Linked DNA regions of Homo sapiens: region 2 is linked to region 1. The links come from fine-mapping of genetic effects on gene expression. A gene starts in region 1. The other region holds a variant in brackets. All regions are shown on one strand. Distances are from middle to middle. Region 1 holds the start of TPD52 (tumor protein D52). Region 2 overlaps TPD52-MRPS28 (TPD52-MRPS28 readthrough).

Region 1 (8,694 bases):
AATTAACCCCAAAAGGAAAATAATCTTAGCCTACAACAAAAGACTTAGTAGCACAGAAGTTCCAGGGATTTGGGTGTTCTTTTTGGTTTTGCACTGTGAGTGAGCGTATTTGTTTTTATTACATGCATACATTATTCTGTTTTGAAATCTTGCTAAAAGATCACAACCCCTCCTACCACTCAGCTATTCCCCTAGGGACTAGGCAGCCTGCCACATAAAAATAAATGCAGGAAGTGAAGAAGAGCTAACAAAGACATCAGCACCATATGGAAATCACGAAACTGTTGACCAAATAAATTAACAGCCTGGATGGGGTGGGTCACACCCAGAGACTTGGGAGTAGACCCTCAAAATTATTATCCATTATTCTCTACATTTGCTTTATTTTTAAATAAATGATACCCCACATTTCTGTTATTTATTTCTAAGGCACAATTACAATGTTAAAATGATAGTGACATATTATTGTGTTATTCTTTTTTTGAAGCCTTTCCTCTCTAGTTTTTTGGCCTCAGGAACCATTCCTCTTCCCCTTAAAATTATAAAGTTGTTTTGCTTTGTTTAAATTCAAACTAGTATAATGTGTAGTGGGCTACGTGACTGTCACTTCTATATAACAGTGCTAAACTAAAGGTTATGACTAACATGAGAGCACTCAAGTATACATATTTATTCAGCTCCATAAAAGGTAGTCAGGAGGGTTTTCTACACAATGTATGCTCTAGTTAGCAACACTGCTCTATCAAAGTAGGAAATACCACACACAGTAAATGTGCTGCGCTGAGCTTAATGCTTGGAAACTCTTGAAAGGCATGATGCAATTTAACGTATTTTAAATCATTTGATGTTCACTGAACTCTCACTGTAAGCAGAGTATTGTATTCAAGCCCTAGGTATGAGAGAAAGTAGAAAAACAACAGAATCTGGGCCTGATACTACAGAGCATTAGAATACTCGTGGTTGAAAACATAAGGAAAACTCAGTGTTTATTTTAAAAATTTACAGCTCTGTTAAGTACAATCAGTAGCAAGAACAGATTTTTTGATAACTTCACATAAGAAGGTTGGAAGAGGGATTTTCAATAGATAAATGCATGTAAGACAAGAGGTAGGGCATTTAATTTTACAACTAGAGTTTCATTAGGGATTTTTTAAGGGACAAATATAAGAAAACTCCATGTACATTAAAAACTATTAAAAGTTCAACAAATCCTAAAATTTTCTGCTTTGGTTTTAAGTATGTTGCCAAAATCACAATTCAGGAGACAATCACAGAGTTTGATAAACCTTATTTCAGCCAACACAGTTTGCTAGTGAACACCAGGTTTAAAATCCCAGGTTGTGCCTTTTCCAGTTTAAGGCAGGAGTCTTGCTCCAGATTCACTTAAGACTGAGTCATCCACTCTACTAGTTCTAAGATCTTCCATGTAAAGTTATCCTCCAAGCCCAGCACTGCCTTATCAGCAACTCTCTGGCTAAGTTCTGCTTCTTGAGAATAGACAGGGAAAACAGAACAGGAGAAAGTGGGAAACAAGAGATGGATTTGGAGGGACACAGAGGTTACTATGGCTGGGGCCTGCTCTTGGACACTTTCCTCACTCATCTTAGGCAGTCAACACATATTTCTAAGCACCTACTGTGTGCACTGGTAACATAAAGATGAAAAGGCAGGTAGGCAGGTGGAAGCAAGAGTAAGGAATGGCCAGGTGGTTTTGTTTTGTGTTTGTTTGTTTTTTGAGATAGAGTCTCGCTCTGTCGCCCAGGCTGGAGTGCAGTGGTTTGATCTAAGCTCACTGCAACCTCTGCCTCCCAGTTTCTAGTGATTCTCCTGCCTCAGCCTCCTGAATAGCTGGGACTACAGGCCGGTGCCACCGCGCCGAGCTAATTTTTGTATTTTTAGTAGAGACAGGGTTCCACCTTGTTGGACAGGGGTCAAACTCCTGGCCTCAAGTGATCTGCCTGCCTCAGCTTCCCAAAGTGCTGGGATTACAGGTGTGAGCCACCGCACCCAGCCTTGGCCACGTTGTTCTAACACAGCAAAGCTTTGGAGTAAATGAACTGACCCTCCCAAGGCAGTGCCTCTTCTTTCATTCGGAGCAGAGTCCTCCACCTCACCCAAAGAACATATGGGAAAATTATAGACACGAAAAGACTCATCTTACAAGATAAAGATTTGAAAAAAATATGTCTTAGAATTAGACACTTAAACTAGTCCTATAAAAACTACACAAGAAGTTGGAATACTGCAGTGCTACCAATGACTGTTGATTCTTACCACCCAAGCTAGAACACAAACACTACTAAAACTAGTTACTCCACTCACGTAAGTAAAACACAGCCGTTTAATTTACTTTGACAAGTACCAAACATAGTTATTCTAAAAACATCATTATGTCAAACGACAGTGTGTAACAGATTAGTATACAAATACACATGGGCACGTTTGTCGTCATGTCTCCCCCGTCCTGCGTCGCCCCCATTGAAAGCCAGACAGACATAATGCTGACTTACATGGTGGCCCCTAAGCCGGCTAACAATATATACAAGACATGTGACAAGCTTTCTAACTCAAACATTTGCATGTCTACTATGTACAAGTCATCATGTTATCCCACTCAGGACAACCAAAGATGAAATGTTTCTAACCTCAAGAAGCTTAAAATTTAGATAATAATATGTATGTGTATATATACGTTATACAGGTAATGTATAATATATATATACACATAGGTAACACATATAAAGCATATTGTATGTAATGTTTGTAAGCACTTGTGTTAAGTCTGAAATTAATCTGAAGGGGAGCGAGGAAAGAGCTGAAAGACTCCAAAGAGTCTATCTTACAAGTAAATGAAAGTAAAGTACAGGCCTGGCCCAGTGGCTCACACCTGTAATCCCAGCACTTTGGGAGGCTGAGGCGGGTGGATCACCTGAGGTCAGGACTTGGAGACCAGCCTGGTCAACATGGAGAAACCTCTGTCTCTACTAAAAATACAAAATTAGCCGGGCTGTGGTGGCGCACACCTGTAATCCCAGCTACTTGGGAGGCTGAGGCAGGAGAATCACTTGAACCAGGGAGGCAGAGGTTGCAGTGAGCTGAGATCCCGCCACTGCACTCCAGCCTGGGCTACAGGTGGAGACTCAAAAAAACAAACAAAAAAAACACCAGAGTCTGAAAAAAATAAAGTACAAGATAGTATATTTGGAATATGGTTTGATTTACATAAAAATGCACACATGACGGCACATACTGGAGGAAAATAAGCAATACATGAAAACTTGTGTCAGGGCTCAAAACAGGAGTGATTCCTATCCTCACTTCCCAAGATTACCTACCTTGTTTTCTTTTTTCAGCATTTATGTATCTTTTTAAAAGCGTGCCACACACATCTGCGTACAGTCACAGGCTTATGATCAGCAGAGATCTCTAGGATGAAACTATTTAAATCTGAAAACCATGGCCTACTATTGCTCTATTTGGGGGTAATTTCACTTGAGCTGTTTTCAGAAGCAAGTGCACCCAACGCTATGGTAAATTAGACTGAAGGTTTTGTGTTGTGGGATTTCACCCTTCCTACGAAAAGCTCTCTTCCCTCAAACCCACAGACACCACTCCACAATCTGGGGGTTTCTAGTATGATAAATATCTGCCTCCCAAACCCCCCATGGGTCATACGCCACCAAAAATCCTAACCACCTGAACTTAGAAGAAGGCAGAAAGTCTTAATTTATGAGGGAGAGAGGGGTTTCCCACCTGGAGGGACGAGAGCGACTCACTGTCCTCTGTTCCTGGTTCCAGTCACTTACAGGAGCTGGCTGCGCCGTGCTCCCTTCACGCGGCTTTCCACCCAAAGCGCATCACGGCCGCCAGCCCCTGACGCTAGCCCCTTCGCCACCTCCCAGAACCTTCTCTCCCTCTCCCCCACACACGCACACTCACACTCACACATGCAGTCCCATCTGCCCCCGCCAGAGCCGCTCCTTCCAGGGCCCCAGGATGCCAGATCCGGATCCGGGAGATGCAACTTGCGGCGCCGGCCCAGGAGGCTCGGCACCTGCTCGAGCCGCCGGGCCGCGCTCAGCCCCGCGCCGAGCCAAAGCCCGAGTCCAAGCCCGAGTCCAAGCCCGAGCCCAAGCCCGCTGGGTCCGCGCCCTCACCTTGCTCGCCGCGGTCCATGTCTCCAGCCCGCCGCCTCGTGTCCTCTGCAGCACCCCCGCCTGCAGCCCGTCCCGGCTCGGATCGCCCGCCGCGCCGCGCAGAGCTCCTCCTCGCCTCCGCCGGCGACTCCCGCGAAGTCCCCACCCCCAGAGGCGTCGGGCGCGGCGGCGCCGCCCGCCCTCGGCCTGGAGCGCTTTCCTGGGGCGTCACCCAACCACCTGACCCGGTCGACCTGTGCGCTCCGCCACGTCGGCGCGGGCGGCGCAGCGCTAGGAGGGCCGGGCGCACCCCGACTCCCGCACCGGCTGGAAGTCGGCCGGGAGGAGGGAAGAGGACGGCGAGGAGATGGACTCGGCCATGGAGGCTGCGTGGAGCCTGCTTGGGAACCGGGATGGCGTTTGCCTTCCACCATCAAGTTATTTATAAAATCAAAAGTTTCCTCCGAGGCCTTGGAGATGCCCTTTCTCTGCATCTGCGAACACCTACTTTCCTATACTTACAGTAGGAAACACAGGAACGTTATTTAGAAATGCCAGTGGCTCTTTTCTCTCTGTATTTTATTACCTAAATAATGCCCTATGATGTCTTCTCTAACTAGGTCATAAACCAGCATAGGTGAAAATTGCAAAGAATCTCTTGAAAAATTATATAGTCTTTTCCATAGAATGCGGATTTTTTAGGTGACTAGGAAGATTTTCATATAATAAAAATCTGTTTTGAGTGCGGGACTGAGGACAACACTAAAATGAATTAAATCAAATGAAATTAATTAAATTAACCGAAGGTCAGAATTATCAGCAGAGATCTTTGGAAAATGCGTGTTGAGGCGTCATGTCCGTTGATCAAAGGACAGTTTGAGGTTCCCGTAACAATCCAGTTCTTTTCATTAGTAGCGTTAACAATCTGTTTTCACAGGGTTTTGCAGTTACTCGTCTTCCATGAAGTCACTTTGATTGTATGGGTCATGGTCTTCAGGTGGTGTCTCAATTTCGTAAGCTATCTGAGGCTGCAAATGAAGTGGGGCTTCTTTTCTGTGTTGCTTGACGTTTAGGCCGAAGCATTGTGTAGCACTCCACAGACAACAAAGAAGCACTTATTCAGATGTTTTAAAATTACTTGTAGTTACCTGAAGTGACTGTATGCTATTAATATCTCTATACTGTCGTGCTGTATGTAAAGTGTAGCTCTCTCCAGCCTGCATCTTCCAGTGTCTTCTGGGGACGTTTACTGTTTGACTCAACCAGATGTGATCTCTTCTATTTGAGTCCTTCTACTCTGACTGCACTTGGCTCCTCTCCTGTGGCACTCACCCCAGCACTGGTGCCAGGATGCTACCAGTGTATGTTTCACAGTCCTATTAGGTTACAAGCTCCAGGTGGTAAAGTCCTTAAAATGGCCTATTAAAAAAATCAAAAAACAGGCCTGGCACGGTGGCTCACGCCTGTAATCCCAGCACTCCGGGAGGCCAAGGCGGGTGGATCACTTGAGGTCAGGAGTTTGAGACCAGCCTGGCCAACATGGTGAAACCTTGTGTCTACTAAAAATACAAAAATTGTCGGGCGCGGTGGCTCACGCCTGTAATCCCAGCACTTTGGGAGGCCGAGGCGGGCGGATCACGAGGTCAGGAGATCGAGACCATCCTGGCTAACACGGTGAAACCCCATCTCTACTAAAAATACCAAAAATTAGCCAGGTGTGGTGGCGGGCGCCTGTAGTCCCAGCTACTCGGCAGGCTGAGGCAGGAGAATGGCATGAACCCGGGAGGCAGAGGTTGCAGTGAACTGAGATCACGCCACTGCACTCCAGCATGGGCAACAGAGTGAGACTCCATCTCAAAAAAAAAAAAAAAAGTTCCAGGTGGGCAAAGATTATTTTGGTCATCTCTGCATCCTTTAATTCTACCATGCAATTAATAAATATTGTAATTTTAAACCAGGCATGGTGGTGTTTGCCTGTAAACCCAGCTACTCAGGAGGCTAAGGCAAGAGGATTGCTTGAGCCCAAAAAGGTGCAATATTTTTTAAAAAATTTTTAATGTAACATAAAGGTAAATTTTGGCATCAGCAGAAAATTCTGTATGTGGTAAAGAATTTTTGACTAGCTGATGCTGAGATCTATTGTATAGAAATAAACATCTGGAGAGACAATCTCTCAATGTACTAATTTGTGGACAAATAAATAGCACTTGAACGTGAGTGTCCGTTACAAATATTTATTGTTTGTATCTGTTTAACTTACTATATAGTGATGAACTTGTTATGTATGCTGAAAGGAAAAAAAGTCTTATCTTTTGAAGAGCTTATAGAGTAGTTCACATGCAGCAGAGATGGCAAATAGCCTACCTGATAAACAGCCTTCCTGTTTTCCTTCCTAAGATAACCTAAATATTGTTTGGAGTGGCAATGTGCCCAGCTGAAACACTGGGCACTTCAAACTGCCTTGCAGCTGGAGGTGGGTCTCTCTCATTAATGTCCAATGAGATGTGAGCAAACTGTACTAATTGGAATCTCCAAGAAAGCATTTAAAAAGAAGACAGACTTGGCAGCATTACTTGGCCCTTCACCCTTCCCATTCCTGCTTAGAGGGGCAATAGCCATTTTGCAAACACGAGGAAGAAATTCACAAGCCAAGGACGGCAGAAAGAACCCAAGAATCCATGGCATCAGAGACCTGCTTCTTACTGGAAAAAAATAAATGCCTGACTTTGTAAGGCCACTGTAGTTGGCTTTCTGTTAGATGGAGCCAAATGCAATCCCAACTGATAGAATGCGCCATATAGAAAATGCACTCTGGCATGCACCCACGTAGGTGGATACATGCAATCCTGAGCCTTAGAGATAGATTAACTTAATTTTCTCTTTGAGGTTAAATGAGCACTGTTCATACTATAAATATCCTAGTACATGATATTTCCACAAAAGCCTGCTTTTCTCTTACATCTTCCTACTACATGTATTTCTACAAAAGCCTGCTTTTCTCTTGTGTCTTCGTACTACTTCATTTGTTTTCTTCTGACAGAATCTGTGCTTACAATTTATGCTGTGTTACTTCTGAAATGAACAGGTCTTATGTTTTAGCACTCTGAGGAATCTCTGGAGAATGGCTAGCACTTAAACAGAGCACCTGGGTGCATTGAGTTGAACCACATTTAAAAGGCTCAGTACAGGAAAGAAACACTAGATTTACTTTGTGGTGTTATTGTTGATGGGAACGTGGATTTTTTTTAAGTTTCTTTTTTTAAGTTTCTTTTTTCAGAATACTCATTTGTTGGTGAAATTTTTACAAGAAATTGTAAACTTCCCCTGAAACAAATGCATTGAAGCAAATGAAGGTATTGAAAAGGATAGATAGAAACCGACTTATGTAAGTGGAAAAACTCTATACTCTGCCCTTGTTGTATGTATCTTCCTTGACCGATAGCCAGCAGAAATCACACAGAATGTGTGGCAAGTGGGATGCTTTCTGTAGTCTTACCCCTCATATTTGTGGGGCCTGGGGCGAGGATACAAATGGAGCCCCTGGCTTTCTCTTCTGGCTCTGTCCTTTCACTTTGACTCTGTCCTGCACCAGGCTGGCCCACTCCCTTGTGCGTGGATGCCTTAGGACATATCCCATCTCTATCCACCCTTTCCCATCAGCCGAGCCTTGGCCATACCTCCATTCTAGGGTTGCACTCAAAAGGACTGTCCTGGGAGAAAAGCTGAAGGCCTTGACAACAGATGTTGGCCAGTTTAGGCAAGAGATTCTGTAGTTATAGGTATCAGATGCACCGTTGATAAAGAGGGGGTAGATATTTGATGCTAGGGACTGCTCATCAAGGAGAACAAAAGTGGGAAGTCTCTATGGGACCCAGGGCGCCCAGTGGAGGGGCTTCAGGTAGCCTGGGTCTAGGGTTGCTGCCAGATAAGATAAAAGGACACCCAGTTCAATTTGAATTTCAGATAAATGACAAGTAATTTTTTAGTGTAAGTATATCCCTGGCCAGGAGTGGTGGCTCACCCCTGTAATCCCAGCACTTTAGGAGGCCAAGGTGGGTGGATCACTTGAGGTCAGGAGTTCGAGACCAGCCTGGCCAGCGTGATCAACCCCTGTCTCTACTAAAAATACAAAAAATTAGTTGGGTGTGGTGGCACATGCTTATAATCCCAGCTCCTCAGGAGGCTGAGGCAGGTGAATCACTTGAACTCGGGAGGTGGAGGTTGCAGTGAGCCAAGATTGCACCACCGTACTCCAGCCTGAGTGACAGAGCAAGACTTCATCTCAGAAAAAACCCAAAAAAGTATACCCTACAATATTTGCAACATACTTATACTAAAATTTATTATTTATCTTAAATTCTTAGCAAGTTGTCTTATATTTCTATTTGCTAAATCTGACTACCCTACCTATGTCAAAGGGTAGTTCTGGCTCTCTGATTGTTCAAACAAATGAAGGCATATGATACCACAATTTTGAAAATTATATCATCATCCAGGAGAAAGATAGACTCTTCCTGCTTGAATCATGGTAGTAAACAAAGGGATGAAGGTTAGGAGG
Region 2 (8,694 bases), 76 kb before region 1:
GCTCAGGTAAAAGATCTCCAGCCAGTGCTTCTCAAATAACTTTATTACATACCAGAGCCACCAGGGGAGCCTGTGGAACTACAGATTCTGAGTTAGAAAGTCTGGGGTGGAGCCCAAGACTCTTGCTTTCTGGACAAGCTCCAGGTGATTTCTGATGCTGCAAGTCTGGCTTTAGATAACAGCTGCTAAGTTTGCCTGAGGATGAAAGCTTGAGTAAACTCTGAATACTGATGTTACAGGACTCCAGCACTTTCTAACTATATACATTTGAACATAAGAGACAGATTTTATAGCTAAAAAGGTTTGGCTTTTTGTATATATTTCTTATTGATACAAATATGTGTACATGTATATGGGGGCACAAATATGATACTCTATCACATGCTTACACTGTGTAATGATCAAATTAGGGGTTTGGGGCATCTATCACCTCGAGTATTCGTCATTTCTGTGTGTTGGCATTATTCCAAGTCCTCTTTTCTAGCTATTTTGAAATCTACAATACATTGTTGTTAACTATGGTCATCCTACACTGCTATCGAACATTAGAACTTATTCCTTCTAAGGTATGTTTGTAACCATTAACTAACCTCGTTTTATCCTCCCCCCACCCACTGACACATCTTCCCAGCACAGCCACTGTGAAAAACAGTATGGAGATTTCTCAAAACAATTAAAAACAGAATTAACATATTAATAGATCCAGCAATCCTACTACTGGGTATTTGCCCAAATGTAAAGAAATCAGATGTCAAGGATATTTGCACGTGCGCGTTTATTGAAGCACTATTCACAATAGCAATGATATGGAATCAACCTATATTCATTAATAGTTGAATAAAGAAAATTGTGGTATATATACACAATTTATTACTACTTGGCCATAAAAAAATGAATCTTGTCATTTGCAGCAACATGGGTGGAACTAGAGGTCATTATGTTAAGTGAAATAAGCTAGGAACAGAAATACAACTGTCACACGTTCTCACTCAAGTGGAGCTAAAAACTGTAGATCTCGTGAAGAGAGAGTAAAATCACAAATTCCGTGTTATACACATTCTACCACAATTTAAAAAAAAAAAAAGATCACATAATTATAAGAGGTGAGATTGTCACTCACACTTTAAATTACTGCCAGAGGCTGGGAAGAGGAGGAGTTGAGCAGGGGTGGGGGTAGGAATAAAGGATGGAATAAAGGTGGAAGGGGGAATAAAGAATATATTTATTACCAAGGAAGTGTACATTTCAAATGGTACAGATGGTAAATTATATACATATATTTTGTCTCAATTAAAAAATATAAAAACTATAAAAAATTAAATGTTAAAAATAAAAGATTTTGTTTTTTGTTTTTCTGAGACCCTAACAGTTCACAAAGCAGGCAAGTTCAGATAGGACAAAACCGGCTGTGTCACAACAGGGTGTGCACATGCTTGGTCTTTTCAACGGGATAATTATTTCGACTCTGGAATAATAATAATAATAATAAACAGAGTCCAGAATAATGGCTCAGTAATAAGAGAATGAAAGCAGGCCATTCTTACTAAAAGTATTAACAATGTATTTGAGAGTACAGTGGTCTCTATGGTGAGATTACTGGAAGATTAAAGAGGTGTCATCCAAGCTAAATGTTTCCAATTTGCTGAATGAGTTTAAAGACAGCTCTACAGGGGTGCATAAACACAAGCGACTGTCACAACCCTAAAAGGAATAAATGAACTGGTGGACTACATTTTAATGTGGAAAAAACTTCCACAATGCTTACACAGCTATTCCTGGCAATGAGAGGCTCATATGAAACACTTTTCCTTAAGGGAATGGGAGTTTCTAGAGAACAGTAGGCACTTATTTAAAATTAATATTGGACCACAAACTTCTATCATCAGCAAGCTGAGACCTAACAAACAAGATCAAAATACCAAGTCATACATTTAGGCAGTTAAACTTGCTTTTAAACTGTAATAAGCTAATTAGATGCATTCAGTGGGTCAACCATTAAAAAAAATATACACTGCACAAATCTTGTCAATTTTTCATTAAATTTTATTAAGAAACAAGAGTCCTGTGCCAAAAGTGATAGCTTCACCATCTGAACCTGCTACTCTGGTTAAGAAATGACATTTCCAATTCCAAATTTCACATACTTTCCTTTATAAAGACAATAGCAGAAGACCAATGCTACATGTAAACTCAATAGTAGCCCATTATCTTGAAACCAAATCAGTGTGTGGAAAGCTTCAAAACTTTCTTTGCCTTTTGGCACAAGACTGAAGACATGAGATTTTTTTTAACATCTGACCATAATAACTGCTGTATTAATCACTGTGAAGGCTCCTTGTTGACTTTTCTCAGAGTTTTATAAAACATCGCTATCAAACAGGTATTTATCAAAATAGGCATATAATTTTATTTATTCCAGGAAGCTCTCTCAGTGTTAAAAGGATAAGATAATTAACGTTTAGATGGAAAGAGAGCATGGGATGGAAAAATGCTCTCCTGAAACACAGCCAGATCTATGAAACCATACAATTACTGTCATGTCATCTCTGAAAGATCAAGTTAACAATGTGTATGATTTAATAATCTTACTTAATATGGCCAGGAATGCTAACAAATCGCCAAGCCAATTTGTTCTTATTCTTACGCAGGTAGCTAGACTACACCTCCCAGGCTCCTTTGCAGTTAGATGTGGCCATGTGACTAAGTTCTAGACAAAAGAAAATTTTATATATATATATATATATATATATATATATATATATATATATATATATATATATGTATGTATATATAACATGAGGGAGACATAAAGATTGTTGCCAATAGCCACTGAGATTTTGGGAGTTACTGATGGAAACATATTGCCAAATATAGCTTCAGATGTATTTCTTCAAATTCCTCTTTTAAAATGATCATATCCCCAGGTAAGAGTTTTGGAAACAGATAGTGGTGATGGTTACACAATGATGTGAATATGATGAATACAACTGAACTGTATACTTAAAAATGGTTAAAATCACAAATTATATCTTATATACACATATTCTACCATAATTTAAAAAAAAAATGATCACTTAATTATAAGAGTTGAAATAAGTTGGAACCATGATTAAGAAGTATTTTAAATACTCTTTCCTGAAAATATAAGCAAGACCTTTGTGTCCAGACTTGTTCAGAAAATGCTCTAAGTGAAGAAGAGGAAGCCCTGGGAGAGGCAGGCCTGGTTAGGTTGTCACAATAAGGAGGGTAATTGTCAGCAGGAGGAGAGATGCTGGGACCAAGAATATATCACAGATCCTTCAATTGCACTCCCAGGTATTTACCCAAATGAGCTGAAAACTTATGACCACACAAAACCCTGTAGTGAATGGTCATAGTGGCTTTATTCATGATCACCAAAAACAAGAAACCACCAAGATGTCATTCAGTAGGTGAATGGATAATAAACTGTGGTACATCCAGACAGTGGAATATTATTCAGCACTAAAAAGAAATGAACTAGCAAGCTGTGAAAAAACACAAAGAAACTTTAAATGCATATTATTGACAAAAGCCAATCTGAAAAGCCAAAATACTGTAAGATCTCAACTATGTGACATTCTGGAAAAGACAAAATTATGGAGACAGTAAAAAGATCAATGGTTACCAAGGGCTGAGGGGGAGGCAAGCAGGAATGACTAGGTTGGGGTGCTGGTGATTTTTAGGGCAGTGAAAGTATTCTGTATGATACTGCAATGGTGGCTACATATTATGCATCTGTCAAAATCCATTGAACTGGACAACACTAATAAAAACTACAGACTTTAGTTAATAATAATGTCTCAGCATTAACCAAATGTAACAAATGTACCATATGAATTTAAGGTGTTAATAATAAGGGAAACTAGGGGCGTGAAGGAACTCTGCACTACTTGTTCAATTTTCTGTAAACCCAAAACTGCCCTAAAATACAAAGACTAGGCCGGGTGCGGTGGCTCATGCCTGTAATCCAAGCACTT[G/T]GGAGGCCAAGGTGGGAGGATCATGAGGTCAAAAGATCGAGACCATCCTGGCCAACATGGTGAAACTCCGTCTGTCTCCACTAAAAATACAAAAATTAGCTGAGTGTAGCGGCATGCGCCCGTGGTCCCAGCTACTCAGGAGGCTGAGGCAGGAGAATCGCTTGAACCCAGGAGGCGGAGGTTTCAGTGAGCTGAGATCGCGACACTGCACTCCAGCCTGGCAACAGAGTGAGACTCCATCTCTACATACATACATACATACATACTATCGGCCAGGCACAGTGGCTCACGCCTCCAAGCCCAACACTTTGGGAGGCCAAAGCAGGCATATTGCTTGAGCTCAGGAATTTGAGGCCAGCCTGGGTAACATGACAAAAACCCGTCTCTATGAAAAATACAAAAATTAGTTGGGCATGGTGGTGTGCACCTGCAGTCCCACCTGCTGAAGAGGTTGAAGTGGGAGGATTGTTTAAGCCCAGGTGGTCAAGGCTGCAGTGAGCCATGATTGTGCCAATGTACTCCAGCCTGAGTGACAAGAGCAAGAACTTGTCTCAAAATAAATAAAGACTATCAAACACACACACACAAACACACACACACACACACACACACACAAACTTCTCCTAGTCTGCCTGGGGTAAAATACTCAAGCACCAAAACTCATCTGCTTGGACTATGGTCAAGGCTTCCTAAGTATCTGAAGTAGCACCAAAGAAAGCATGTTTACATGTACAGGCATACTCCTGTTTTACTGCACTCCACTTCATTGCACTTCACAGTATGTTTTTTACAAACTGAAGGTTTATGGCAACACTGTGTCCAGAAAGTCTATCTATTAGTGCCATTATTCCAGCAGCACATGCTCACTTTGTGTCTCTGCATCACATTTTGCTAATTCTCTCATTATTTCAAACTTTTTCATTATTATTATATCTGTTATGGTCATCTGTGATCAGTGACCTTTGATGTTACTATTGTAATTGTTTTGGGATGCCACAAACGACACCCATACAGGATGGCAAACTCAATCGATAAATGTTTGTGCTCTGACTGTTCCACAAACTGGCCATTCTCTCATCTCTCTCCCTCTCCTCAGGCCTCCCTATTTGATGAGACACAACAATATGGAAATTAGGCCAATTAATGTCCCTACGATGGCCTCTAGGTGTTCAAATGACAGGAAGAGTAGCACATCTTTCACTTTAAATCAAAAGCTAGAAATGATTAAGCTTAGCGAGAAAGGCATGTCAATAGTCTCTGTAGGCCAAAAACCAGACCGCCTGCACCTGCCAGGTTTTGAATGCAAAGAAAAAGTTCTTGAAGCTTCGAAATTACAAGTGCTACTCCAGTGAACACATGAATGATAAGAGGGCAAAAACAGCCTTATTGCTGATATGGACAAAGTTTGAATGCTCTGGATAGAAGTTCAAACCAGCTCAACACTCCCTCAAGCCAAAGCCTAATCCAGGGCAAGGTCCTACCTCTCTTCAATTCTATGAAGGCTAAGAAAGGTGAGGAAGCTGCAGAAGAAGTCTGAAGCTAGCAGAGGTTGGTTCATGAGGATTAAGGAAAGAAGCCATCTCCATAACATAAATGTATAAGGTGAAGCAGCAAGTGCTGATAGGGAAGCTGCAGCAAACTATCCAAAAGATCTAGCTAAGATAATTTATGAAGGTAGCTGATATGGTTTAGATCTGTGTTCCCATCCAAATCTCATGTCAAATTGTAATCCCCAGTGTTGGAGGAGGGGCCTGCTGGGAGGTGATTAGATCATAGGGGCAGATTTCTCCCTTGCTGTTCTCACAATAGTGAGTTCTCAAGAGATCTGATTGTTTAAAAGTGTGTAACACCTCCCCACTTTGCTCTCTTCCTCCTGTTCCACCCATCTAAGACGTCCCTGCTTCCCCTTTGCCTTCCACCATGATTCTAAGTTTCCTGAGGCCTCCCCAGCCATACTTCCTGTACGGTCTGTGAAACTGTGAGCCAATTAAACCTTTTCTTTATAAATTACCCAGTCTCAGGTAGCTCTTTACAGCAATGCAAGAACAAACTAAAACGGTAGCTACACTAAACAACAGATTGTCTATGTAAATGAAACAGCCTTTTATTGGAAGAAAATGCCCTCTAGAACTTGCAAAGTTAGAGAGGAGAAGTCAATGCCTGGCTTCAATGCTTCAATGGACAGGCTGACTCTCTTCTTAGGAGCTAATGTAGCCAGTGACCTTAAGTTGAATCCAATGCTCATTATCATTTCAAAAGTTCTAAAGCCCTTAAGAATGATGCTAAATAAATCTACTCTGCCTGTGCTCTAGAAATGGAATAACAACGCCTGGATGACAGCCCATCTGTTTATAATATGGTTTACTGAATATTTTCAGCCCACTGTTGAGAGCTACTGCTCAGATAAAGATTTCTTTTCCAAATATTACTGCTCATTTACAATGCACCTAGTCATCAAGAGCTCCGATGGAGATGTACAAGGAGATGAATGTTGTTTTCATGCCTGCTAATACAACATACATTCTGCATACCATGGATCAATGAGTAATTCCTATTTTCAAGTCTTATTATTTAAGAAATCCATTTTGTAAGGCTACTGTGGCCAATCTGCCAGAGATTGCTCGGGTGGGTCTGGGCAAAGTACATTAAAAACCTTCTGGAAAGGATTCACCATTCTAGATGCCATTAAGAAAGTTCATGTTTCATGGGAGGAGGTTAAAACATAGCATAACAGGAGTTTGGAAGAGGGTGATTCCAGCCTTCATGGATTACTCTGAGAGGCTTAAGACTTCAGTGGAGGAAATAACTGCAGATGTGGCAGAAATAGCAAGGGAACTATTACAGAATTACAAGTGGAGCCTGGATATGTGATTGAATAGCTGCAATCTCATGATAACACTTGAAGGGATAAGGAGTTGCTTCTTATAGATGAGCAAAGATGAAATCTACTCCTGGTGAAGATGCCGTAAACACTGTTGAAATAACAACAAAGAATTTAGAATATTACATAAACTTAGTTGATAAAGCAGCAGCAGGGTTTGAGAGTTTTGACTCCAGTTTTGAAAGAAGTTCTACTGTGGGTAAAATGCTATCAAACAGCATTGTATGCTACAGAGAAATTTTTTTGTGAAAGGAAGAGCCCATCAATTGCCACGGCCAGCTCAACCTTCAGCAGCTACCTCCCTGATCAGTCAGCAGCCATTCTCATTGAGGCAAGACCCTCCAGCAACAAAAAACATTAGGACTCACTGAAGACTCACTGACCGTTAGCATTTCTTGGCAATAAAGTATTTTTAAACTGAGGTAAGTGCACAATTTTGTTTTGTTTTGTTTTGTTTTGGGGGCGAGGGTATATACACAATTTTTTAGACATAATGCCTATTGTGCATTTAAAAGACTACAGTATAGTGTAAACATAACTCTTACATACACTGGGAAACCAAAAAATGTGTGTGAGTCGCTTTATTGCTATATTTGCTTTAATTATGGCTGTCTGGAATCAAACCCACAATATCTCCCAAGGTATTCCAGCAGTTCCAATGGAAAGGCTAAGCTCATAATAAAGGAAATAACGGCCCTATTATAATATCAAATGCCATTATTAATGCAAAGTAGACAATCGCCTGACCAACTGTAGCTAAATTCTTGGCATTTATGAAAAAACAAACAAACAAACAAAAAACACAATGTTTTGAATATCTGGCCAAGCTAGAGATGCTGCAAATGATGGGAGGGTATTACCATCTGCAAAGAACCTTCCACCACAGGTGAGGGAGGTTCACAAAACTGGATGGTGGTCTAACATCTTTTTTTTTTTTTTTTTTTGAGATGAAGTCTCGCTCTGTCACCCAGGCTGAAGTGCAGTGGTGTGATCTCGGCTCACTGCAACCTCCGCCTCCCAGGTTCAAGTGATTCTCCTGCCTCAGCCTCCTGAGTAGCTGGGACTACAGGAGCGTGACACCACGCCCAGCTAATTTTTGTATTTTTAGTAGAGACGGGGTTTTACCATGTTGGCCAGGCTGGTCTTGAACACCTGACCTCAAGTGATCCACCCACCTCAGCCTCCCAAAGTGCTGGGATTACAGGCGTAAGCCAGCGCGCCCAGCTGGTCTAACATCTTTTTAAAATGAAACAGAAACAGATATCTATTGAATGCAGAAGTAGAACAAGTTTAAGGCCTACATTTAATTCTTAAAGTCTCTTTTCTTGGCAAATATTTGGTGAAAACAGCCTATCAAGATGACAAACCTATTATGGCCCAATGATACAACAAATACTGGCAGCCCTAGTTCCTTTCTGTGGATTTCTAAGAAGGCAGGCATGGGCCCCAGCATCTTCTCTAAGTAGTGTTCTAAACATTTAACCTGCATGTTTATCAAAACACGCAATTTTAAATTTAGATTCTTGATAAAGAGGATTTGATTTAGAAAGATAATCCTCTGGGGAAATCTCGCCTCCAAATTTTAAGAACTGAAAATCAAAGGGCACAAATTGCAGAAGGGGGCAAAGTGACACACAGAAACAAGCTCTGAAATAAACCAAAGTAATATCTTAGTGTGAAGATGATTGCTTTAAATAAGCTGATCCAAGCCCTAATTATTTTCTCTGGCAATTTCTTACTCTTAAACAAAAACAGAAACACTATTCATACTCCCCTTTACAGATTGTACTCTGCTGCTTATGAACAAGCAGACAA

The links.
Region 2: its variant is fine-mapped to the expression of TPD52 in blood mononuclear cells (TOPMed, PIP 0.91).

Annotation. Positions count from the first base shown.
Region 1 is chr8:80,167,268-80,175,961 of GRCh38, forward strand. TPD52 (tumor protein D52) reads right to left here and starts at 4,297. Exons shown (of 8, transcript NM_001025253.3): 1 at 4,158-4,297. The coding sequence starts at 4,176. It overlaps TPD52-MRPS28 (TPD52-MRPS28 readthrough), which reads right to left and starts at 4,297. Exons shown (of 7, transcript NM_001387778.1): 1 at 4,158-4,297. The coding sequence starts at 4,176. RefSeq lists a silencer at 4,129-4,458.
Region 2 is chr8:80,091,706-80,100,399 of GRCh38, forward strand. The region is part of intron 1 of TPD52-MRPS28 (TPD52-MRPS28 readthrough); the gene reads right to left. All of the region lies in intron 1 of TPD52 (tumor protein D52), which reads right to left. LOC105375918 (a long non-coding RNA gene) reads left to right here. Exons shown (of 3, transcript XR_007060978.1): 3 at 1-519. Among named protein-coding and RNA genes, the nearest start is that of MRPS28, 66 kb to the left of the region's middle. The variant G/T (reference allele first, on the strand shown) is at 3,999.